7 linked regions of the Homo sapiens genome follow. The protein of the gene in region 3 purifies or fractionates together with the protein of the main gene of each other region. This does not show direct contact. Each region holds a gene or a part of one and is shown on either strand. Other genes may lie near its edges. The genes, in order: TTC28, STX16, MCOLN2, MGAT1, POTEF, UTRN and UFSP2.

Region 1 (3,164 bases), on a different chromosome or scaffold from region 3:
ATATTATTGTCTAGTATTTTTTGTTAGCCGAATGAAACATTACTCTTTTTATAAAGGCAATATTTGTGTTCATTTATGCATATTTACCCAATTCTTTACTATTCCTTCATGCTTCTCACACTTTTGCATATAGAATTATCTTCCTTCTTTCTGAAATACTACCTTGGAAGTTTTGTTAGATGATATAGGGATCTGGTGGTGATGAACTCTGTTTCTGTTTGTCGAAATACGTATTCAACTGTCGAACTTTCTGGCCCTCCAACTATGAGTAGCGTCTAAATTACCCCCCCACCGACAGTGCCCCCAGACCAGAGACGTGCGGGACAGCTCTGCTGCATGCATGGTCGTGCTCTCTGCTTGGCGGATGTGAGGCTATGGTGTAGAGGTGGGGTTAAAACTAGAGAGATACGTGCTCAGTAATGACACACGGCCCACTCCATGTACTGCAAAGAAACCTAGACAGTGTGGAAAGAGTAGAGAAAGTGATCCAGATACAGCACTTAAAACTGAGGGAACTCATGCTTTAATAGACACTGAAAATCACAAAGGAGGAAGGCCAAGTGCCTTAGCAATCTCAATAAAAATATGAAGTTCTTTTTACATGGTAAATTTCATAATATAAAAAGTTTAATGTCTGGAAATGGTGTAATTTACAAAAAAAGTCCACGTAGGCCAAAGATGGCTAACACTGCATATAAGGAACGTGAATGCCAGTGGGAAGGTGTCTGAGGAGGGGCAGGGCCACAGGTGTCCTGACAGGGAACATCTTTGAAGGATCTGGCACAAACAAGGGCCCAGTTCACAAACCACAGGTACACTCATTTTAGATAGAACAGCAGAATAGGTGATGAAAATTATACAGTTTTCACTTGTTGCCTACTTACTGAAAGCAAACCAGATTATTGCATGGCATTTTTCCAGCCTGAACTGAAATTATCAAGGCTACAGTTCTTCTTGTGGGTCTGCAAATGTGTGTGGCTGGGAGGTGGCAGAATCGGCACGGGCCAGGGACCGGCTGCAGTGATCATATGCTGGAGCGTCACTGGGACAGAGAGAGCAGGATGAGGACAGCGTGGGTGACACCTTTGTCTCCTGCTAAAACCCAGCAAGTTTCAGTGTGGACCGTGAATTTTTAAAAAATGGAATGGAGGTGAAAACTTTCATTTTGTGTTGCACATCAGTGTGGATCAAAATGTAAGTTTTAGTAGCAATTTTTCTCTTGATATTTTGACTTAATTAAAAAAATCAAATTAGTTGAGTCATTTACTGGAGAGAATTAAGAAAGCTTTGACTCCCTTGCTCTGTGGTCCTGCTGAGGTTTCTAAGAGAGGGGAGTTGTACGGCTTATAGTCATTGTATTTACATCTGATGGAGTAGCAGAGGGTGGGGCATGCCAGTTTCCTGAGCTAAAAGGAAATATATGCAATGCTTTCTGCAAATGGTAAGGAAAAAATTGTTTTGTAAATATTACATCCATGGACTCCTCCCAAGTGGGACAAAGAGCCAAGGGCTATGCAGGAGGCATTTGCTTCCATCCACGTGGCCCTCACATACCCTGGGCTCCCCGGACGCCAGTCAGTCTATCCACTACCTGACTTGCTTTTCCTAGACTGGAGAAACAAAACGTTATTCCATTTTCTGTCATCCATACCAGGAGTCAGCAAACTTCTTAAAAGGCCAGGTATTGGCTGGGCGCAGTGGCTCACCTGTAATCCCAGCAGTTTGGGAGGCCAAGGCGGGCGGATCCCCTGAGGTCAGGAGTTCGAGACCAGCCTGGCCAACATGGTGAAACCCCATCTCTATTAAAAATACAAAAATTAGCAAGGCATGGTAGTGGGTGCCTGTAGTCCCAGCTACTTAGAGGCTGAGGCAGGGAGAATTGCTTGAACCCAGGAGGAAGAGGTTGCAGTGAGCCAAAATCGCACCAGTGCACTCTATCCTGGGTGACAGAGCGAGACTCTGTCTCAAAAAAAAAAAAAAAGGCCAGGTATTGAATATTTTATGTGGTGTGGGCCAAAGGCAAAATCAAAAATATGATGTAATTACTTATATAACCCTTTAAAAAGGTAACTTAGCTCATGGCTGTGAAAAACCAGACCGCTGACCAGTCTTAGCCTGTGGGTCATAGTTGCCAACCCCTGATCTACACAAAGAAATCTTGGTGAATTATACAATTTCCTTTAATTCTAAGTGCATACTTTTTCCAGTGTAGCCTGAAACATTCACTGTGATTTTATGATTTTACATCCATTTTACTCATACAAGAACACCAAGACTGACATACACGTAAAGTGGCGGTGACTTTACAGTGGCCTCTAGACTGTTCTATCATTTTATCACTTTTGTTTTCCCTTCCTTGAAACTTATATTTAAGACAGAATAAAACCACATAAACCATTGGCTCTTCAGTATGAAACCTAAAACAACGATGTACATGGGACTAAAACCAGGTTAGAGTCCATGAGTAACTCCTAGCTGGCTCAATAACCACAGGAAGCGGCAGGGTGGTGGGGGTGTTTGCTAGAGAGGGGCAAATAGGGCCGCAGCCTTCCCCTCACAGAAAGAGAGCACAGACCCCAGAGCTTTACTCCAGGGATCCTTGGCACTTGGGAAAGAAGGAGGCTGAGAGATTTGCTAAGAGAGGGACAGCCTAACCATCTGCATATGGATTTAGAAACTTGAGGTTTACTTTTCATTGTTAAGAACCTGATTTTGCTATCTAATGCACAGTGCTATAAATTTGGTCTTCACTTGCTACACTGGTACTTTTATTACCATTTTTTCCCCTACTAACATAAAGAAACCCTCATAATTGCTGGCTTCTTTATAAAGTACTTCGCTTTCAGTGTTGGGATCAGGGCTAGAATAAGACATGCTTATTGTTGGCTTTTGTCAACATGGCTGTTGGTTAAATTAAAAACCCCTAGGATGGAGCTCAGGAGAACACAGATTGGATAAATATTATCCTTTCTTCTTTTCAGAGGAGTACACTGAGGAACAGGTGAGATTGTCAGTGTATGCGCAGAAGCTGAGATCCCACCCATGGTTAAAACCCCCACCTGGGGATCCTGAGGTCAGTGCCCCCTGCCAGGCCCCTCAGGTCTGCTCCATGTGCTGCTGGTGGCCCAGGCCAGGTGGCCGCCCACCTTCATGAGGAACCCTGT
Region 2 (3,500 bases), on a different chromosome or scaffold from region 3:
AACTAAAGAAGACAGAGAGATGGTATCTATCTAAATTTACCTGCATTGGGATTAGTATCATTTTATCCAAAACAACAAATTATAAACCACATATGAAAAGTCGGTTGAAGTGAATACAACTCTTTGAAGCAGTACTTGATTTTATGCATGTGTTCCCCTCAAATTAGATGTAAATCAAAAGTGGGGAGAACACACTCTTTGTTAAGGGTCCTAAGGAAGCTTGCTAATTAGAGATTCCTACATGAACAGCATGGATGCCAGCCTGCTCAGCTGGTACTAGCTTTCCCACACATTGTATCAGAGTTTTGCCAGTAAGATAGAACAGCTGATTCTTTGGGAATGAAAACTTTAAATAGCGAATAATTTGTCTCTTTTATGATACAGTCTATAGCTATAGTTCATTATAATAAAGAAACACCACCCTATTGAGAAGAAATGTGTCATTTCTTTTAGCAGTATGGATTTGTAATGTGTATCACAGTATGTACTATTAAAAAACAAGACAGTATGTTTTGGGAAGGGAAAACAATTGTTGAAGATAAGCGTCAACTATTTGAAATGGGAACAAATATGGACATAAACAAATTTTATGTGCAACATAAGCACCCTTTTAATTTCAGAAACCTCACTTTCCATTTAAAAACATGTCTTCTTATTGTTGAAGATCCAGCATATGTATCAATTTTCAAGCTGCCATCCTATTTCATACAGATCTTAAAAAATGGCCAGGTTTCTAATTCTCTCTCCTTACCCTTACTGAATTTCAACATGGTGCCCCCTCCAAATATATGATGTTGGTTTGTGCAGCTGGCCATGGTGGCTCACGCCGGTAATCCCAGCACTTTGGGAGGCTGAGGCAGGCGGATTGCCTGAGGTCGGGAGTTCAAGACCAGCCTAGCCAGCACGGTGAAACCCCGTCTCTACTGAAAATACAAAAATTAGCCGGGCATGGTGGCATGCACCTGTAATCCCAGCTACTCGGGAAGCTGAGGCAGGAGAATCACTTGAACCCGGAAGGCAGAAGTTGCAGTGAGCCAAGATCGTGCCAATGTGCTCCAGCCTTTTATTAAGACAGAGCGAGACTCCATCTCAATACATAAATAAATAAATAAATTTGTGCTTCTGAAGTAAAAAAAAAAAAATCCATATTTTTTAAATAAAAATTGTACTTAAGAGAATTAAGAATTCTTGCCTCTTTGATATGTAGTTCCTCTCTCCAAGAACTACTGGGGTCCGCTACCCTAACCTAGAGCCATCCTTCCTGAGAGAAATGCAGAAAAAATCCAACAGATGTTCAAAACAGCACACCCAATGGCTTTCCTGCCAGTCTCACTAAAGGTATCTTTTGCCTTTGATCCACTTCAAATGTTGACATTTGTCCATTTAAAGAGTACCAGCCAGTATGGACAAGTTCTCCATCTATGGAAAGAACATACACATTCTCTCTTATAAATCTTGCTGTTCCAAATCTATGGCCCTCCTACTCTTAAAAACCCTGCCTTTCCCTGAAGGCTGATTTAGTGTAGACTAAGATTACAGAAATAGCAAAGCCTCTGTGGAGATTGGAAAAGTCAGCTACACCTCCTCCCCATCTAAAAAAATCAACTAAGTTTAGCCGTAACGCATTGGTAATGAGAACAATACCGATAATTCTGGACTGTCTATGGCAATGAACACTTGGAAAGCCCAGAAGGGACACTGAAAATCAACAGACTGGCAACTCACACTTCCACGTGAAACTCTGGGAGCCTGTATGATGAAGTCAGACTACTTCGCTAATAGACAATTAGGCTTAAGAAATCCGAGTTGTTGGAGAAGTGAATAAGCATGTGGATAAAAGAAAAAAGTGATGTCAGCACTACATTTTTCTAAACCCGTAATAATTTTAAAATAATGCTTACCTTTTCTAATTATGAAATTAGTAAATGGTCAAAATAAATACTTTTAAAATGGCATAGGATGACGCAGTGGCTCACGCCTGTAATCCTAGCACTTGGGAGGCCAAGGCAGGCGGATCACTTGAGCTCAGGAGTTCGAGACCAGCCTGAGCAACATGTCAAAACTCCGTCTCTACTAAAAAATACAAAAATAAATAAATAAATAAAATAGCCACGCATGGTGGCACGCACCTGTAGTCCCAGCTACTCAGGAGGCTGAGGCAGGAGAATCGCTTGAACTGGGGAGGCAGAGGTTGCAGTGAGCCGAGATCGCGCCACTGCACTCTAGCCTGGGCAACAGAGTGAGACTCTGTCTCAAAAAAATAAAAATAAATGATACAAAAAATATAGAGATAAAAACACTTGAGAATCACATCACCCTGATACTGTTGTTAAGTTTCACTGATTTTCCTTTTTTCTCAACTAACATACATACTCTGAGGGGAAGAAAAAGGAGGGGAGCAATCCGTCCCTCCCTGCCTTCTGTGAGCACTGTACTGAGCACTGCTACTGACCTGGCCCATGCCAGTCCCAAGAACAATCCTTCAGAGGAGCGCCGCTCCCTATTTCACCAACATGGACACTGGGGCCCGGCCCAGGCACTCCCAGATGTGCAGTCCTCCAGGCAGTGTGGTTTGGGGGCTTGACATTTGTTATCTTGTGACTTTTAAAATAATTCTTGAGTTTAAAAACTCCCAGAGATTTCTTTGTCATAAGACAGGAAGTAGATTAAAGACAGAGAACAAAGGAGAGGGCCAGACACTTCCCTGGGTAAGAGAACCAATGGTGGGCTCGGGTCCTCCTCAGGGAACACCTTACTTAGTGTTTTCTGAGAAGGAAAAGTGACATCTCCAGGGTACTCAGGCTAGAGGAGGAGAATGACAATCAAACATGGACAGACTGCAGGAAGCCTCTGAAGTGAGGCCGTCAGATGCCTTTACTCTGGGAGATGCAAGTGATATTCACTCAGGGACATTTGCTCAGGCCTCCCCTATAAAGGGGTGGCTAACATCTAATCCACTCTGGAGCTGGGTGTTCACTATTTCCAGAGATGCCAATGTGAGGCCCTGCGTCAGCTTCAAAGAAGCCTCTGGACACTGTCCCCAACCACACCCCCTGCTCCTAGGCCAGTACCTGGCACTTCAGAGTCCTGAACGCACAATCACAACCAGCTGAGTGATCCGACAAGAAACGAGTGGAATGAATGCACGAGGTAAATAAAATGTACGTCACAGACAATTGTGGAAGCCACACTTCATGAAAAAGATAACGGCACTGCACAAAAGAGCAAAAGAGGCAAGTGAAACGCACAAGGAAATGAGGTGGCCGTGGGCACCCACGATGAGGCAGCAACCTGCATTTCTAATAGCACTGGGGTGAGCGTGGAGGAGATAGTGCTCTCTACGCAGGGCCTCTGATCACAGAGCGTGAAGACTCCCTTTTAAGCCCTTAGAGGTGAAACATAAGAAAAGCAAAAGGGCCTGCCAAGTTCATGCAGTGAGTAGCCAGTTTCTGGAACTTGCTGCCTGAAAAAGGAAGTAGGAAAGACTGGAAATCGGTTCA
Region 3 (3,947 bases):
ATCCTGTCCTTTGCACCTTTGAAATCAGATGCTGGCTTGTCCTCTCTACTAGGAAAGTCCTAGATGGCATCTCCTGCCAATAGAAGGCTGTTTTGTCTACATTGAAAATCTGTTGTTTAGAGTAGCCTCCTTCATCAATGATCTTAGCTACATCTTCCAACTAACTTGCTGCAGCTTCTATATCAGCACTTTCTGCTTCGCCTTGCACTTACATGTTATAGAGATGGCTTCCTTTCTTAAAGCTCATGAACCAACCTCTGCTAGCTTGAAACTTTTCTTCTGCAGCTTCATTACCTCTCTCAGCCTTCACAGAATTGAAGAGAGTTTGGGCCTGCTCTAGATTATGCTTTAGCTTTAGTGAATGTTGGTGCTGGTTTGATCTTCTATCCAGACCACAAAAACTTTCTCCATAACAGCAATAAGGCTGTTTTGCTTCCTTATCATTTGTATTTTCACTGGAGTAGCACTTATAATTTCCTTCAAGAACATCTCATATGCATTCAAAACTTGGCTAAATGGCACAAAATGCCTAGCTTTTGGTCTGTCTCAGCTTTCAACATACCTTCCTCACTAAGCTTAATCACTCCTACCTTTAAAGTAAGAGACCTGTGATTGTCCCTTGCACTCAAACACTTAGAGACCACTGTAGGGTTATTAGTTGGGCTAATTTCAATATTGTGGTGTCTCAGGGAATAGAGAGGGTTGGGGAGAGGAAAAGAGATAGAAGAATGGCTGGTCGGTGGAGTAGTCAGAACACATACAACATTTATTAATTGAGTTCCCTGTCTTATATGGGCACAGTTCATGGCACCCCAAAACAATTACAGTAGTCACATCAAAGATCAGTGGTCACAGATCACCATAACAGATATAATAATAATGATGAAAAAGTTTGAAATATTGAGAGAATTGCCACAATGTGACATAGAGACACAAAGTGAGCACATGCTGTTGGAAAAATGGCACCAATAGACTTGCTGGACACAGGGTTGCCACAAACCTTCAATTTGTAAAATAAAATAAAATTGAATTAAATGCAGTATCTACAAAGTGCAATAAAGCAAAGAACAATAAAACAAGGTATGCCTGCACTTTTTTCTATGAACCCCTTAACATGTGACACAAGAGCTCACTAAAGAGTGATTTAATTCTTCAGAACTGACACACGGAACTTAGACCCTAGGCCTTAAAGAAAACAGCCCAGCTTCAGGAAAGTCCACTTTTACTTTTACAGCCAGAAGAGTTTTCTTTGGCCACTACTTTTACTTTGAAAGCTATAGTCACAAGAAGCCATCTCTTTTTCCGCCGGTTTTAAAATTGTCTTGTTCTAGGTTTCACTTCACTGACAGAGACATAGCCAAAGAGATCAGCTTGTGAATATGATCATTCTTGACTTTCAGTTCTGTATTTCGTGCCCCTTTGCTCAAACTATGTCTCTCAGTTCTTCTCACTTGCTTCATTAAAATATTTTATATCTATTACTCTATTTTTTTAAAAAAAAACACTTTTGATATGTTCCTCCTTCACAGAAAAGAATGTGGCTACCTCAAACACTTTATTAGGATTCACTCATTTTTTATTACAGGAGGTTAAATAAAATTGGTATTATGATGGCCTCTGTATGGAAAATGTGTCGTTTTTAGAGTTCCGGCCACAGAAACTGACCTATGAACGGTTTTCTAAAGGAGAAGGGTGTGCCTGTGGAAAGTTCACGGCAACGGGAGTTTGACTCCTCTTAAGGTATGAAGAGGAAGACAGGCTAAAGTCTCAAGAAACTTCTGACTCAATAGGGGAAAGCTATCAAATTTCCCAAAAGTTGTGCGATTTTGGTTAGCACATCACAAAGGTGATGAGCAGCTCCTGAGAGTGAAACCCACATCCCATTTCTGGGGAGAACTACGTAGTTGGTTCCCTCTACATAAAATATCAGAGTCTACATCCTGACACCCATAAGAAACCTCTCCCACCTTTCTCTTACTAACCTTTTCTTCCATTCTCAGTTTACAATGACACACAATTTTGTTTCCCACAAGTACCGTTCAACCAGAGACACACACACTTACACATACGTATATATTTCATATATATATATATATATATATATATATATATATATATGTTTGGAGAGCAGGAAACGGGGGAGCCAAGGTCTGTTTGTACTCACAACTTTGGCTCAACTGTGCTGGGGTGGCTGGAGGTTTGACCACGGAGGAGGGGCCCGCTGGCAGCGCCAACCGGCTGAACTGTGCGCCTTTTCATAAAGGCCGAGGAACTGGGGTTAGCCACACTACAACCCTCCCACCTGAGGGAAAGGCCTGTTTGTTCTGGAAGGCACAGCCTAGCCTTATTTAACTAACTGCAAGCAGTTAATATAAGCATTCCCAAGGCAGCAAGCAAGCTCTAGTCTACGAAAGTAAAGCCATCGACTTTAGGAAGATTTCTCCAGTCCAGCATCCTGAAAGATGAAGCCCAGACTCCTCACCTGACGGTTAACCTGAAAACACCTGATCCTCTCTCCGGAATCCTTGCCTGGGGAAAACGATAAGGCTGCCGGGCCATGCCTCCTCCTTCAAAACTTTCCAGGGCTCTCGGGATTCGGAACAGGAAACACCGTTCACGGCCGACTCATTTCGCCCTCGCCGTAACGCGTCCGCCGAAGTTGGAGCCCTGCAAAGCGGGGTTCCCTTCTCTTACCCTTTCTGCCGGCCGCGTGGTGCGCGCAGACCCCGGCCCGAGAGCAGGCGCCGCAGTCGTGGAGTGCGGCGGGCAGTTCTCGGGCGGCTGAAAGGCGGCTCTGTGTGCACCCTGCAGGATGCGGCGCGTGGCCAGGCGCTCCCGCCCCGCCCCCAAGGGGCTGCCCCGCCCCGCCCCGCCCCGCCGCCTCCTACCGGGGACCGGAGCTTCCCCAGTTGGGGTCCTAGGGGACTTATTCCACGCTTCAGCGGACCAGCCTCCCCGCGCTCCCGGAGAAGGGGGTCGGCGACGCGGAGGCGGGGTGGGGGCCGTAGGGGATGGAACCGAGGCGCGCGCGAGAAGAGCCGAGGAAGTAAGCAGTCCCAAAAGGGGGCGGCGGTGGGGCCCCCAGGGAGGCGTGGGGCACGCCAAGGGCGCCGTGGGGCACTGACCTGTGGTGCGGCCCCCAGGACAGGCCCGAGGCGCGGTTGCACACCGGCAGGTCCAGCACCTCCATGCCTCGAGGCATGGCGCGGCCAGGGAGCGGCAGGAGGACACCTAGCGTGGGACGGCTACACCTGTCTGGGCGCAGGCCCGCCGCCCTTGCACTCTCCACCCAAGTGCCCAACGCTGCGGTACGGCCCGCTTTGGCTCGGGGTGTCTGCCGGAGAAGCGCCTTACAGAGGGACCCGGGCGGTGGGCCCTGCGGCAAAGTGGCCCACGCACCCTCCACACCGCTCCCGGGCGGCCGCACCTGGCACTCCCGGCCCTCTGGGGTTCCTGCCTTTTTCGGGGGGGTGGTGGTGAGACCGGGTCTCACTCTGTCGCCTGACCTGCGATCACTGCTGACTGCAGTCTTGAACTCCTGGACCCAAGCGATTCTCCTGCCTCCGCCTCCCAAAGTGCTAGGATTACAGGTGTAAGCCGCTGCGCCTGGCCCCTTCTTTTCTTCACTCTCTCATGCATTCATTTCTTGTTTCCACATGCATTAATTTGTCCGTTGCTTTGGTCATTCCTGTTTTGATGCTTAGGGAAACACTCACTGAGAGCCAAGCCGACCGTTGGGTACTGTGGTCTCTGGGATGACAAAGACATGGTCCTTTCCCTTGAGGACTTCACATTAAACTGACAAGTTCATTCATTCTGGCTTTTCTCTAAAGTGCACGATCATGAAAGTCTGTGACAAGGGCCATATTTCTGAGATGTTAGAAAGTGCGACCGGCGCGCAAGGAATAGGAAAAGCGAGTTGCCCTGCGCCCGCGTCGGGATGAAAG
Region 4 (3,500 bases), on a different chromosome or scaffold from region 3:
AATCACTTCCCGGGTGAGGCTGGCGGGGTCGCCATCGAGAGCGCTGACTGAGGGTGGCCTGCCAGGTGCTGGGCGCGTCCAGAAGAAGAGGAGCAGCAGGGCATTCCAGGCCACAAAGAGGATAGCGCCCCACAGCACAAGCCCTGCAGACTGCTTCTTCAGCATCCTGGCCCCCACCGGGGAGGGCAGGCCAGGGGACGGTTCAAGGCTGCCCTGGGCTTGCCCGGCTCCCTTGCCCGCAGTCCTAGGGATGCCTCCTCTGGACTATGGGATTAGGAGGCAGCCATGCACCTAAAGACAGGAGAGAGAAAGCAAACCGTCACACAAAGGCTCGTGGCTCCATGCCCCACAGGTAGAGGAAATGGGGGCAGGAAAAGGCCAAGAGTGAGGGTGGAGGAAGGCCAGGAGGTTGACTCCAGAGCTCTCTAGGGAGTCAACATATATCCTGACCCAGGAACGTATTTTTGAGGGAGAGGCAGAGAGTGATGCTGGTGGAGGGAGAGAGAAAAAGAACCCCAACTCCCCTCTTTCTACCTGTCAGATTTCATTTCCCCTCCAGGTGGGAAGGAGGAGGGGAGGGGCAAGGAGTGACAGCATCTGCCTACCATTCCTCTAACCTAAGCGCCCCAAGATGACTGATTTTTAAAATCAAATGTCCCACCTCAGGGCTACAGTTAACCCCTTACCAACAGGGAAGCACCAGAGGCACCCCACGAATGTCAGGAGCAAAACGAAGTTGCCCATCATCTCCAGGGTTATTTAACATTTTGCTGGAGGAAGCAGCCAATGCAAATGAACCAAGAAAAAAAAATTCAAAGCAGAAGTGGAAAGGAAGCAAACTATTTCTATTATCTTTACTTGTGAGAATATGCCTGGAAAACTCAAAAAGAATCAATAATGAACTGAGCAAGGAAGTGTAATATAAAAATCAACATATACTAATGGATAGCCTTCATATCCACAAATAACTCATGAGAAGAAAACATGGATGAGAAAACCCTACTTACAAAAGCCAGAGAAATGAGAAAATATTTAGAAATAAACTTAAATAAACTTAAACATTCAAAACTTATGTGAACAAAACTATCATTCCTGAAAGACACAAAAGAACATCTGAATATCCCTTGTTCTTGGTCAGGACATTTCAGCATCATCAAAAATCCCAATAAAAATACCTTTTTATGGAGCTAGACGAACTGACAGTAAAGTTCACATGAAAAACTAGGAAAACAATAAAAATAAGCTGTGAGGAGGGACTCAGCCCTACCAGATATGAAAATACTGCATACTGGCCAGATGCAGTAGCTCCTACCTGCAATCCCAGCACTTTGGGAGGCCAATACAGGAGGATCACTTGAGCCCAGGAGTTCAAGAATAGCCTGGGCAGCACACGGAGACCCTGTCTCTACAAGTAACAATTAAAAAAAAAAAAAAAAAAAGCTGGGCATGGTGGCACGCACCTGTGGTCCCAGCTACTCAGGAGGCTGAGATGGGATCACCTGAGTCTGGGAGGCTGAGGCTGTAGTGAGCTGTGATTGGATTGTGCCATTGCACTCCAGCCTGGGCAAGAGAGTGAGACTCTGTCTCAAAAAAATTTTTTTTTATTATATATATATATATATGGCATACTACAAAACCTCCATAATTACAACTGCGTGGTACTGGTACATAAATAAACAGACCATCCAGTGAAATAGAATTTAAGCTCCAGAAACAGACTCATTACACAAAAAAATCTAATATGTAATAAAGGTGCTACTTAAAATTCCCAAGGCAAAGATGGTCTTATTAATAGTGTTATAATAATTACGTAGCTATGCTATAGCTTGAATATGGTTTGTTCTCTGAAACACATGTTGGGATTTGATCCCCTGTGTGGTGGTGCTGCCGGAGGTGGGGTCTAGTGGTAGGTGTTTGGATCACAAGGGGGGCAGGGGCAGATCCTTCCTAACGTCCTCTGGTGAGTGAGCTAGTTCCCCAGGGATAACAGGCTGTTATAACCAAGCCCAGTCTCTCCTGCATGCCCCATTTCTTTCTACTTTCAGCCATGTCCCTACAAAAACCTACACAGGAGTGTTGATGGTAACTTTATTCATAATCACTCAAAACTGGAAATAACCCAAAGGCCCATCAACAGGGAAATACAGATAAACAAATTGTGGTTTACTCATAGAATGGAATAATATTCAGCAATAAAACTGAATAAACCACTGACATACACAACACAATCTCCAAATAATTACACAATATGGGTCTTTTTGGGAAAAACAAAAAAGAGCACATACACTGTGATTCCATTGACATAAAACTGCCGAAAATAGAAACTAATCTATATTACAGAAAGCAGATCAGTTGTTGCCTGGGGATGGAGGCAGAGAAGGGCAGTAGGGTAGTTACTACACAGGGGCATTAGGAAGCTTCTAGAAGGGTGGATATGTTTATTATCTTGATTGTGGTGATACTTTTACAGGTATATATATATATATATATATACACACACACACATATATGTCAAAACTTATCAAATTGTACACTTTATATGCAGTTCTTTGCACATATTGATATCAATTGTATGTCAATGAAACCTCAAAAAACTTTTTTTAAAAAGACGTTATTGGGTAAAATGACAAAGGTGGAATATGGACAGTAGGTTAAAGTATCAGTGATAACTGATTAATTCCAATTCTTAGGTAATACACACTGAAGTATTGAGAAGTAGAGGACCAGGATAGATGCAACTTCTCAAATGGTTCAGAACAAAAACATACTCTGCACACATAGAGAGCAAATGGAGCAAAATATTAACAGGTGAATCTGAGTAAAGAGAGTGTGTACGAATATCCTTATACTATTTTTTATTCTTGCAATTTGTGTAAGTTTGAAGCTATTTCCACACGAAGTTTCTTGACAATCAAATATGTAGATATTGCCCATAGCTCTGAAGAGCTTCATCCATCAGCGTAATCCCAGCTGGCACATCAGCAAGGCAAATTGAGATGATCTGTTTGCCCTGAATTCCTCGGTCAGTCACCTGACGACGTGTATCACACACCTGCTCTCTGCCAGGCTCTGGGAAGGAACCAGGACACAAACCAGTGAGAAAAAGGCATGGTCCCACCAATCCTCCAAGCTCTACCAGACCACATTACTTGAAAGGATCTGAAACACTCCCCAATTCCCAGCCAGCTGCCACTCCAGACCATAACTCCTTGACTGTCCTGCCTCTGGTCTACCCTTTACACCCCAAAGCTTCAGGCGTGCACCCTCTTACACCAACAGCTCTGCCAGTTGCCCTCTGCCTCACAGGCTACTCTCTAATCCTGGCCAAAACCTTGGGCCTCAGATCTAACCTCTGAGGCTCTGGGCTCTCAAACCAGCAGATCTGGTATAAAAGGGCTGATCCTGAAGGGCCTCTAAAGAGACATGGATTCTGTCTCCCTCCTGGGGAGACTTCACCAGCCCCTGCCAGCATTCACCACCAACCACTTGTCTTCTTCCTA
Region 5 (3,500 bases), on a different chromosome or scaffold from region 3:
TATAACTAAATTTATTCATAAATATCTCATTAAAGTAGATAATGTGATTGTCCACTATTACGGAGTTGATCAATCACACCAAGGGCAGAAAAACCAATGGATGTTAAGACCTGACTTGGACCAACGATCCTTCTCTACCGACTCAAACTCTCAGCCAGTAGATGTCTGTTAGGATAATGCTTTATATTGATGTTCAATTCCAGCTGACATGGGAGACCAAAAGTCTACTTTTATTTTTTTTTTAGTTTCCACGGAGAAGTAGCAAGCTGACATTCTGTAATTTTCGACATACATACTAACAATATATTTTGCACGGAACATGTTATTCAGCTCAAAGTCATCTCATAGACCATCTTACATGACTATTTTTGCAGCACAAATCACAATTTCAATATTTGGGTGGCACCCATTTTGCTTTGATTCACACTATTTCCTCAGAGCTAGTCAGCAAAAATAGTCAAATGACCTTCCAGTGACTGCACAAAATATGGAATGCTTCAAAGATCTGTCCTGCCTCCTTATGCAGAAGCCACGCTAACTTTCCCCGTATTGTTCCAATTTTAGGATATGTGCCGCCGAAGCAAGCACAAAGCCCTACTTTTACATATGATTAGTGATGCGTCATGGACAAGGCTTGGCTCTGTGAAGTCCAACTAACCTACTTGAGATTCTGAGAATTCTCTTCAATGGCTTCCTGTGAGCTAGAGTTTGAAAATATCTTAAAATCTTGAGCTAGAGATGGAAGTAGCTCCGATAATTTTCATTATCATGTAAATCAGATCACTCAAGGGGCCAACCACAGCTGGGAGCCACTGCTCAGGGCAAGGTTCATACGGGACTTTCTACTGCCCAAGGTTCTATACAGGATATAAAGGTGCCTCACAGTACAGATCTGGTAGCAAAGAGGAAACAGACACTGACCTCCTTCTGCCACATTATTTGAACCCCTCTCACCCTTTAGAACAAGCCCACCTAACATCTGCCAGAGAAAAGACCAACAACAGCCTCAAAGGATCTCTTACCATGAAGGTCTCAGCTAATTCCTGGCTAAGATGTGGGTTCCACATTAGGTTCTGAATATGCGGGGAAGGGTCAATTTGGTCACTTTGTGTGCGGATAAAGTCAGGATGCCCAGCGGCCAGAGCAGGGGGCTGGTGCTCTGGGAACAATGGCTGAGCATATAAGCATAGGTATGGGAATTAAAAAACATCAAAGTCACTGTATGAATCGCCATGAAGACTTGAGGGATCTGAATCTACTGATTCATCTTAAGGCAGCAGGACCAGTTTGAGTGGCCACAAAGCAGCAACAGAATCAACGGAAACAACAGAATGATTGCAATGTCTTTTTTCCTCCTCCTTCTGACTTGATAAAAGGGACTGTCTTCCTTGGATTTAGTGAACTCCTTCGGTTCTTGAAAAATTCAAGGAGTATGTAGGACATAGTCCCCAGAAGACAGTACAAGACTTTCCGCTAAACTGGACATTTCAAGACCCAAATAACTAATCAGAAAAATTAAAGATGTGACACTATTTTTTATCCCTGCATAGGTGTTACACTTGGATCAAATGAACAATGCTGGGATCTCTAAGGATAAAGATCTTAAAAGTCCTGAGATAAAGAATCCCGCACCCATTGGTACTTCTAACTTGTCTTGCTTTTTGTCTGATTTCTGGCTGATGCAGGGGACTAAAACTCACTGCCACGCGAAAACTACCTGAACCAAACTATGACATCTCACCTGATATGTGAGATGCAACTGTTATAATTATTTTAAACCTCAATTCAGCATTAACTAGCCTTTTAATGTAAACACTTACACATGATGATGACTAGAAACAGCATACTCTCTGGCCGTCTGTCCAGATAGATCTTGAGAAGATACATCAATATTTTGCTCAAGTAGAAGGCTGACTATACTTGCTGATCCACAACATACAGCAAGTATGAGAGCAGTTCTAAAATGACAGAGATAGGAACTGTAATAAAGTTATTTTTAAAGCTAATTTGATATACTTTACCAATGTAACATCTTGCCTGTCTGTGCAGAATCAAACATTTACATGCACTAAAAGACATAAGCAACCTGAGTGCTCAAGTGTTCATCTTTGTAAAATGCCACCAAGGTTAAAAGGAAGGGACCAAAAAAAACCCTCTTATCTCAGTGGGGTATTGCATAGCAGAAGCTACTAATTTAAAGTCCTTTGATGGGCAAGAAACAATGTTAGGGCCACTTATCTGAGGTGGACAAAGATTTAAGTGAAGATTTTGTCACAGCTTCCCTAGACTGACATGCTGTAATAGAAAATCAGCTAGGGGGTAAGAGAAATAAGAGCTCTCTGCATGCTCAAAGCAGTAATAATAATGGTAAGAATAGTAGTCATAGGAGTTTCAGTTAATGGTGCCAATAACCATGTGCTAGGCACTGAATTAAATGCCACATATATCTTTCTTACTTATGCACAGCCAACTTTGAAGGATATATTCTCCTACTTTTCATATATGACAACATATTTGGTGGTAAATAACGTCCCCAAGGTCACACACCTAGCAAGTAAGAAAGTTACTAATTAAACCCAGTCTTGTGTGAATCCAAAGCCTAGCTCTTTTCTCTTTATCACCCACGTACGGCTTGTCTTCATTAAAGGAAAAGTGTATCCACTTAAAACTATCTTCACTCCCTCTCTCCATACCAATTAAAAATAAAAACATCAAAATACACTGGAAAAACAAAAGGAAAAAAGCTGTTGAACCCACAGTATGTGGGAACAGCAATTAATTGTTATGTAGGGATAAGCTAACACTAATATTCTTCAAAGAAAGCAACTTAAAGCAAAGTCATTAAAAAGACAAAAGGATTTTCAACCCCTATTTATGTTTAATACAGCATATTTAATGGAAAAGCATGTAAGACACAGGTTAAAAACTATTAGAAAGGGTTAAGAAGTTCAATACTGAGTCATAAAGTAAACTAAAAGTTAAAGTTCAAACTTCATAAAATTAATATGAAATCCTTTAAGCTAACATAAGATCATGTAACCAAAAATGTCACATAACAAATAACATCAGTCAATATAATAAGAGAAGATGAATCCTACTAAAACTGTTCTTTATGTTGCCCAGCCCAAGTAATTGTTTTTCTACCTAACTGATTTGTGTTGATACTGATCACTACATCCCAGTAAGTATACATTAATCTTATTAATTTAATATTTATGACTTGAGTGACTGCTGTCCATCTACAACACACAGATTAAAAGAAAGAACTATACCTTCCATATCTATCCAGTGCATTTAAATTCGCTTTTTTCTTAATTAAAAATTTCACGACTTGCTGTTTTTGCTCATGTACACCAAGTAACAGTGGTGTGAGGCCATGCTGTAAAACAATATAAAGCAAAAACCTATGTAATTCAAAAAAGTACATATTCCTCAACCGAAGTGGAAACTTTATATAAGATCTTATGGACTTACACGCATAGAAGTAAATAAAATGTAGT
Region 6 (3,500 bases), on a different chromosome or scaffold from region 3:
CCACCTCAGCCTCCCAAAATAACAGGTGTAAGCCATTATAACAGGTGATATAACAGCCTCCCAAAATAACAGGTGTTAGGCAAAATAACAGATGTTAGCCTCCCAAAATACCAGGGATAACAGGTGTCAGCCATTGTACCTGACCTGGATATAATGATTTTTAAAGATTTTTTTTTTTTTTTTTTTTGAGAAACAGGTGCAATTTCTTCCTTTGGTTGAGGAGGCCACTTAATATCATTGCTAGGAGGATCAAAATGAATGATCCCTTACTTCTGTTTCCTCAAAATAGTTAAAGTTTTGGCAGTCTCATACTGTCTTTTAAAAGAAATCATATTCCACTGTCAGATTCAGAAAAATTTTAGAGTTCTTACTTTTGGAATACACTTGGTTTTGGAAGGTTCACTGTTAAAGATTTTGAAAGCTCATCCCTCCTACGTTACACTATTTACTTCCTAGCTGCCATTTGAGTTAGGAACTGTGTTGCATTGTGCATTATTTTGTGAAATGCATTGAGCATTGTGTGAAATGCTCCACATGTAACCCAGCCTAACTTCAGCAATTGTAGATTGTGTGATGACTGGAAGTGTCTGTATGTGTGCATGCTAGGCAAATGTGTCGTATTGCCTTTCTTCTGAAAGTGCATCTGGACAGCATGTCTTTGTTCCTTGAATTCAGTTATGTGAAATATGTCTTTGAGGGTACCTCTTTCTCCACTTATTGGTACAAGCTGTGCTTTCACTTTTGACAAGGATCAGTAGGCAGTTTAACTTTTGCTGCTAGTTGGTTTCACCTCTTTGTGCTTCAAGAGAACTCACTTCCTTTCCACGCAAGTGTTACTTCTGTGATATTTTTACATTAGTGACTGAGGTAGACACTGTTCCAGCTGGCTGTTCAGTCATTATTTCTCAGGGTACCTGGGCAGCATGGTGGCAGTATTTCCATATAATCTCCTCCACTCTGGACCTGGGTTTGTCTACACGGTGGAGCTTACAGCAAGACTGGTTGAAGGGATCTTTGTTTTCTTTTATTCTTTGTGTAGCTGTTAAGGAAGAGGAGATTATATGGAACAAAAGGGACATTGTTGTTCCATCTTCAGAGAGACATTTCATCATGAAGAAATGAAGAAAAATTATAGTGGGTTAGTTAATATTTCAAACGTCAACATCCGCAGGAATGAAGTCACTGTCTGACTCTCAGAAATGCCAATGGAATGATCTATGTTGTTAATTAACAGAGACCCTTTTACATTTTAATCATGGGGTCTCCTTTGCCATGTATTGGAATTCATTTAGGATAATGGTCTATGTAATAATATTGGTTCCTAATATGATTTTTTCAAACTAAATATTTTTAAATAAACAGAACTGAAGGGCCAACCTGGACATGCATATCTGGAAACATTGAAAACACTGAAAGATGTGCTAAATGATTCAGAAAATAAGGCCCAGGTGTCTCTGAATGTCCTTAATGATCTTGCCAAGGTGGAGAAGGCCCTGCAAGAAAAAAAGGTAACATATATCTTCCATGTTAGAACTCTAGCGCTTCTTCTAATATCTCCTCTTACATATTTTGAAATGTTTTTTCAGAGATTAAAAAAAAAGTTGGTCAGTTTTGTTCATCATTGGTGCAAAAATGTGTTTATGATTTGAGGGTTAGTTTGACCTCACATAAAAGAAAGTACAGTTATTAAAAATTTTTTCATAGAAGAAAAGCATATTTTCTCCTTCTGCTGTGATTAGCTTAAAATTCTCAACCTGTTCATAAAATCTGCTAAAATATCTTTATGAAATGAGGACTATCAGTTGACGTGTTGATGTATACTTTTTTCTGCATCGAATAGGAATGTTTCCGAGGTCATTTAGTTGAGTAGCCTTATGGCTCTGTGCTATTAGATGAAAAGGAGAGCAGCCATTGAGCACTGCACACTTGGCCCACACTGGGTTTGCTGTTCCCTTGGTTTTTAGGGTTGAGAATACACTGTATTGCCCACACACAACTCATGAAGAAAAAGCTTTAATTTTTATGATTATGCCTATTTTTTTCATGAGTTTTTCATGTTTTGTTTTGTTTTGTTTTTTGATTTCCAACTTTTATTTTAAGTTCAGGGGTACTTGTGCAGGATGTGCAGGTTTGTTAAATGGGTAAACGTGTGTCATGGTAGTTTGCTGCACTACGTATTAAGCCCAGCATCCATTAGCTCTTCTTCCTGATGCTTTCCCTCCCACCATGCCCCACCCTCCAACAGACCCCAGTGTGTGTTTTTCCCCACCATGTGTCCGTATGTTCTCATTATTCAGCTCCCACTTATAAGTGAGAATATGCGGTATTTTTTTTTGTTGTTTCTGAATTAGTTTGCCGAGGATAATGGCTTCCAGCTCCATCCATATACCTGCAAAGGACATGATCTTGTTCCTTTTTATGGCTGCATAGTATTCCATGGTTGATATGTACCACATTTTCTTTAAGTAGTCTATCATTGATGGGCATTTGGGTTGATTCCTTGTCCTTGCTATTGTGAATTGTGCTGCAATGAACATAGTGTGCATATATCTTTATAACAGAATGATTTGTATTCCTTTGGGTATATACCCAGTGAGATTGCTGGGTCAAATGGCATTTCTGGTTTTAGGTCTTTGAGGAATCACCACACTGTCTTCCACAGTGGTTGAACTAATTCACACTCCCACCCACTGTTCTTTTTAGATAAAAATGCTTTCTAATGCATTTTAAAGTGACTTTTGACTTTATATAGCCCATTTTACTATATCTGTGCAGACACATTTTTGTGCATATTTTTAATCTTTTAAAACTTTTTCCAGACCCTTGATGAAATCCTTGAGAATCAGAAACCTGCATTACATAAACTTGCAGAAGAAACAAAGGCTCTGGAGAAAAATGTTCATCCTGATGTAGAAAAATTATATAAGCAAGAATTTGATGATGTGCAAGGAAAGTGGAACAAGCTAAAGGTCTTGGTTTCCAAAGATCTACATTTGCTTGAGGAAATTGCTCTCACACTCAGAGCTTTTGAGGTAAATCCAGAGGCCACTGGGAGTTTAAGTTTATTACGGGGTAAATAGTAATTATCTTATAAGATTCACGTATTTATTATTTAAATATTTTACATTCTTTCTAGATCCCCATTTATTATGTATTTAAGTTGGGACTTATCAAAGATGTACTTTTAATGTGCTAGAGAGCACATTTATTTCCTTTTGCCTGGAAGCAAAGTCAAAAGTAGAGTAAACTGGACCTTGAAGATAAGAGAAAATTGCTTAAAAATGGTCAAAATAATGTTTCAGGCATGGAGGGCCTGTGTGAAATACAGACTGTTGATTAGATTATAGTAGTAACTTGGTTGGGGTGGTAGAAATAGCCCAGGTAGTAGTAAATTGCTGAATACATGAAACTACTTTTTGCAGGTTTTTGACATTTGAAGTCAAAAGTCAGAGATAGGCCATTGACAGTGTCAGAGTGGGAAGGCAAATCGTTCCAGGGAC
Region 7 (3,500 bases), on a different chromosome or scaffold from region 3:
CTTAATAATAAATACATTTTTGAAAAGTCTTTTTACTTACTCTTTATATTTAGTGTTTAATGCACTACAAGTTGACTATTACTGTTTATCTATATAGCATCAAATAGTAAATATAGATCTTATGCTGGAAATGTCAACCTCCCTGGCAGCTGTAACGCCCATCATTGAAAGGGAAAGCGGAGGACACCATTATGTTAATATGACTTTACCTGTCGATGCAGTTATATCTGTTGCTCCAGAAGAAACATGGGGAAAGTAAGTATTTTTATAGTACCACTGCCACATTTGAATGAGGGCCCTTCCCCAAACCCATGTTTGTATATCCTGTAGGTATACCTAAGGTGTGATTTTCTCCTTGTTTATTATTAACCTAAGAGCCATCTATTAATTAAATGGTTATTTGGAGGAAGTAGGGTAGCATGCTAAAACCTGGAGGATTTCCCTTTATCCACAAAGAGCAAATACACAGTTTCTTTTATAATGTATAATTCAGACTTCCTTTAGCAAACCTGGTCCAATCAAGTTTTTTACTATACTAAGGATATATTAGCTCTGTACTTTTCTTTATTGTAGTCACTATAACTTTTGTTAATACACTTATATATTTCCCCCCACAGAGTTCGTAAACTCCTGGTTGATGCAATTCATAATCAACTAACTGACATGGAAAAATGTATTTTGAAATATATGAAAGGAACATCTATTGTGGTCCCTGAACCACTGCACTTTTTATTACCAGGGAAAAAAAATCTTGTAACAATTTCATATCCTTCAGGAATACCAGATGGCCAGCTGCAGGCCTATAGGAAGGTAAAACCAGTTCATCTATTCTTAGAAAAAACAATAATGACTATCATTCATTTTGTATTTAATTATATATTTCCACTAAATGGAAGGTATTTTGTGATTTAACTTAAAAGTGTGGAATTTAGACTATTCATTTTACACATTATTTAATTTCTGTTCTCATGAAACTTTAAGTAGTATTAATGACAAAATGTTATGTTGAACCTATATGTAACATTTTAATTTTAAATGCTCGGTGTGGTTCATATATTCTGTGAAATTTTAATATTTTTCCATAATGAAATATAGAAATGGTGCTTACATGCCTAAAGTTGCTGGTATTAACAGATTTCTATAACTTTCCGATTTGTGAAAGAGACAAGATTACAGTTAGGGAAGGAAAATGATAACTTATGCTAATTCTGAATAGGATTTATGGTAATACTCCACAAGTAAGGTTATTTGGGCTTTATTAGAGGAATTTTGGAGAAAACATGACCAGCATTCAAAGTAATGAGATTTACTCATGACTGGTTTTGGAGTGCATCTTTTTGATATGTGGACTCGCTTAGAACCTATCAAATTAGACCGTGGAGCATCTTCCTAATTTCTGTCCTTAGGGAGAGCGAGAATACCCTGACCCTCTGTATGTGGAGGTGACTTGGTTTGTAGAAGCAATAGCTACAGGAGCTGATCTTTTAAAACCACTGGAGTACAAGATATGATAAAGAACATGTCAAACTTTTTAAAATACCTATTACATGTTTTTATATAGTTGGGAAAATAACACATTTTAAACATATATGTGTATTTGTTTTCCTGCCATATTGGTTGGCTTTAGACCACTAACTTCTACTCTGTAGTTTAATCACTACCACTTACAATATAAAATATTTGTAAGGCACTCGACACAATTTTGCAAAATACTTTGATATAATTATTGTTAATTATAATTTACTCATTTACAAGGCTATTTCAAAACCAGTCTTTAGCCTGGATGTATTTTAACAGACTATGTTGTAATAAATAATTATTTAAAAATTAGTTCTCTTACTCTAACAATTTATATTCATTTTTCTCTGTTCCCTTCCAGTTTCTACCCAGATACAGACGTAAACGAAAATAAATCTTACTTGGTTTTAGTTCAGTTTTCACCATCTTTGATGTTAGTGAATTAAACCATAAGTGTTTGGAAACTTTTATAACCTATATATAATTTTCCATGTTTAATAACATCTTTATTTATTGACTAGGAATCTAAATCACCAACATTTTTTCTTTTTCTGTTGATTCTGATTTATTTTAGGAGTTACATGATCTTTTCAATCTGCCTCACGACAGACCCTATTTCAAAAGGTCTAATGCTTATCACTTTCCAGATGAGCCATACAAAGATGGTTACATTAGAAATCCACATACTTACCTTAATCCACCTAACATGGAGACTGGTATGGTGAGTTTAACTAATTATTTATGGGAGTCACTGGATCAGTAATGTTATTAGTTGTTTTTTGTTGGTACCCAGTAGGAGACTTGATTCATTATGTATTCATTCCTAAAACATGATTTATCACCCATCTCTGTTAACAGACATTGCTTAAGATAGCAGTAATTAAAAATGGTCTAGAAAAGTTAGTAATAGGTAGATATACCACATTTATCTTACTAAAATTCTCTTATTTCTTTAAAGGCTTGTCCCATTTTTTTTCATTCTGAACCTGAGAAATCATGCTAATTAAGGGCATAGTCTACCCAAACCACACTGTAGGATAAATCTTTTTTTGTTTTTTTGAGACAGAGTCTCGCTCTGTCACTCAGGCTGTAGTGCAATGGTGTGATCTCAGCTCACTGCAACCTCCGCCTCCTGGGTTCAAGCAATTCTCCTGCCTCAGTCTCCTGAGCAGCTGGGGTTACAGGCACCTGCCACCACACCTGGCTAATTTTTGTATTTTTAGTAGAGACAGGGTTTCACCATGTTGGCCAGTAGCTAGGGTTACAGGCACCTGCCACCACACCTGGCTAGTTTTTGTATTTTTAGTAGAGACAGGATTTCACCATGTTGGCCAGGCTGGTCGTGAACTCCTGACCTCAAGTGATCCGCCATGTAGGCCTCCCAAAGTGCTGGGATTACAGGCATGATTCACCATGCCCAGCCACTGTAGGATAAGTCTAATGAGGAACTAGACTTATTTTCCATGTAACATATACCCGGTTGCCAGGGATAGATCCTCCCTAAAGGTAGCTCAAATAAGAGTGAATTGGCGGAGGGTGGTGGAAGGGTTACTTTAAGGATACATGGAGGCCAGTGAGAAAGGACCTTATAAGGCATCCAAGATTAGGAATACCAATAGAGCTGGGCCTCTTAGAAACAGCAGCCCTGTGACTAGCAGGTGTCTTCAGTCTCTCTCAAGGACTCCGTGGATACCTTGGTGGCATTGCTATTGCTTTCTGTGTATGCTTGTGATCCTAACTGGCCTGTTCTTAACTTTTACTCTGTCTGCTCCACCTCATACCCTCTGTATCCTCACTGTTTCAGCTTGTGTGTCACTTTTTCCTGTTCTTCCTCAGCTGCCCAGTGTATGCCTCATTCCAACTGCATTTCCTGCTCCTGGCTGCCTGGCTAACTCTGCACCTCTCAGTTCAGATTCCCAAGAGAAAGAAAACTTGGCTATCGTATGGTGGCATTTATTAATACCTTCTGAGCGTCCAGGACT

Evidence for each region.
Region 1: the proteins of MCOLN2 (region 3) and TTC28 purify together in Homo sapiens (affinity purification with mass spectrometry; one large-scale study listed by BioGRID and IntAct). This does not show direct contact.
Region 2: the proteins of MCOLN2 (region 3) and STX16 purify together in Homo sapiens (affinity purification with mass spectrometry; one large-scale study listed by BioGRID and IntAct). This does not show direct contact.
Region 4: the proteins of MCOLN2 (region 3) and MGAT1 purify together in Homo sapiens (affinity purification with mass spectrometry; one large-scale study listed by BioGRID and IntAct). This does not show direct contact.
Region 5: the proteins of MCOLN2 (region 3) and POTEF purify together in Homo sapiens (affinity purification with mass spectrometry; one large-scale study listed by BioGRID and IntAct). This does not show direct contact.
Region 6: the proteins of MCOLN2 (region 3) and UTRN purify together in Homo sapiens (affinity purification with mass spectrometry; one large-scale study listed by BioGRID and IntAct). This does not show direct contact.
Region 7: the proteins of MCOLN2 (region 3) and UFSP2 purify together in Homo sapiens (affinity purification with mass spectrometry; one large-scale study listed by BioGRID and IntAct). This does not show direct contact.

What each region holds. Positions count from the first base shown.
Region 1 is NC_000022.11:27,977,514-27,980,677, forward strand, and holds the end of TTC28 (tetratricopeptide repeat protein 28), read right to left. Parts: 3' UTR 501-3,164; downstream 1-500. UniProt on the Homo sapiens protein: During mitosis, may be involved in the condensation of spindle midzone microtubules, leading to the formation of midbody.
Region 2 is NC_000020.11:58,661,283-58,664,782, reverse strand, and holds part of STX16 (syntaxin-16), read right to left. Parts: intron 1-3,500. UniProt on the Homo sapiens protein: SNARE involved in vesicular transport from the late endosomes to the trans-Golgi network.
Region 3 is NC_000001.11:84,994,314-84,998,260, forward strand, and holds the start of MCOLN2 (mucolipin-2), read right to left. Parts: upstream 2,801-3,947; 5' UTR 2,560-2,800; coding exon 2,483-2,559; intron 1-2,482. UniProt on the Homo sapiens protein: Nonselective cation channel probably playing a role in the regulation of membrane trafficking events. Acts as a Ca(2+)-permeable cation channel with inwardly rectifying activity.
Region 4 is NC_000005.10:180,792,807-180,796,306, forward strand, and holds part of MGAT1 (alpha-1,3-mannosyl-glycoprotein 2-beta-N-acetylglucosaminyltransferase), read right to left. Parts: intron 3,070-3,500; exon of another isoform or gene 2,075-3,069; intron 1,561-2,074; exon of another isoform or gene 1,461-1,560; intron 292-1,460; 5' UTR 166-291; coding exon 1-165. UniProt on the Homo sapiens protein: Initiates complex N-linked carbohydrate formation. Essential for the conversion of high-mannose to hybrid and complex N-glycans.
Region 5 is NC_000002.12:130,108,723-130,112,222, forward strand, and holds part of POTEF (POTE ankyrin domain family member F), read right to left. Parts: intron 3,380-3,500; coding exon 3,273-3,379; intron 1,959-3,272; coding exon 1,821-1,958; intron 1,636-1,820; exon of another isoform or gene 565-1,635; intron 1-564.
Region 6 is NC_000006.12:144,459,835-144,463,334, forward strand, and holds part of UTRN (utrophin), read left to right. Parts: intron 1-1,362; coding exon 1,363-1,508; intron 1,509-2,819; coding exon 2,820-3,032; intron 3,033-3,500.
Region 7 is NC_000004.12:185,412,465-185,415,964, reverse strand, and holds part of UFSP2 (ufm1-specific protease 2), read left to right. Parts: intron 1-97; coding exon 98-255; intron 256-617; coding exon 618-810; intron 811-2,092; coding exon 2,093-2,239; intron 2,240-3,500. UniProt on the Homo sapiens protein: Thiol-dependent isopeptidase that specifically cleaves UFM1, a ubiquitin-like modifier protein, from conjugated proteins, such as CD274/PD-L1, CYB5R3, DDRGK1, MRE11, RPL26/uL24, TRIP4 and RPL26/uL24.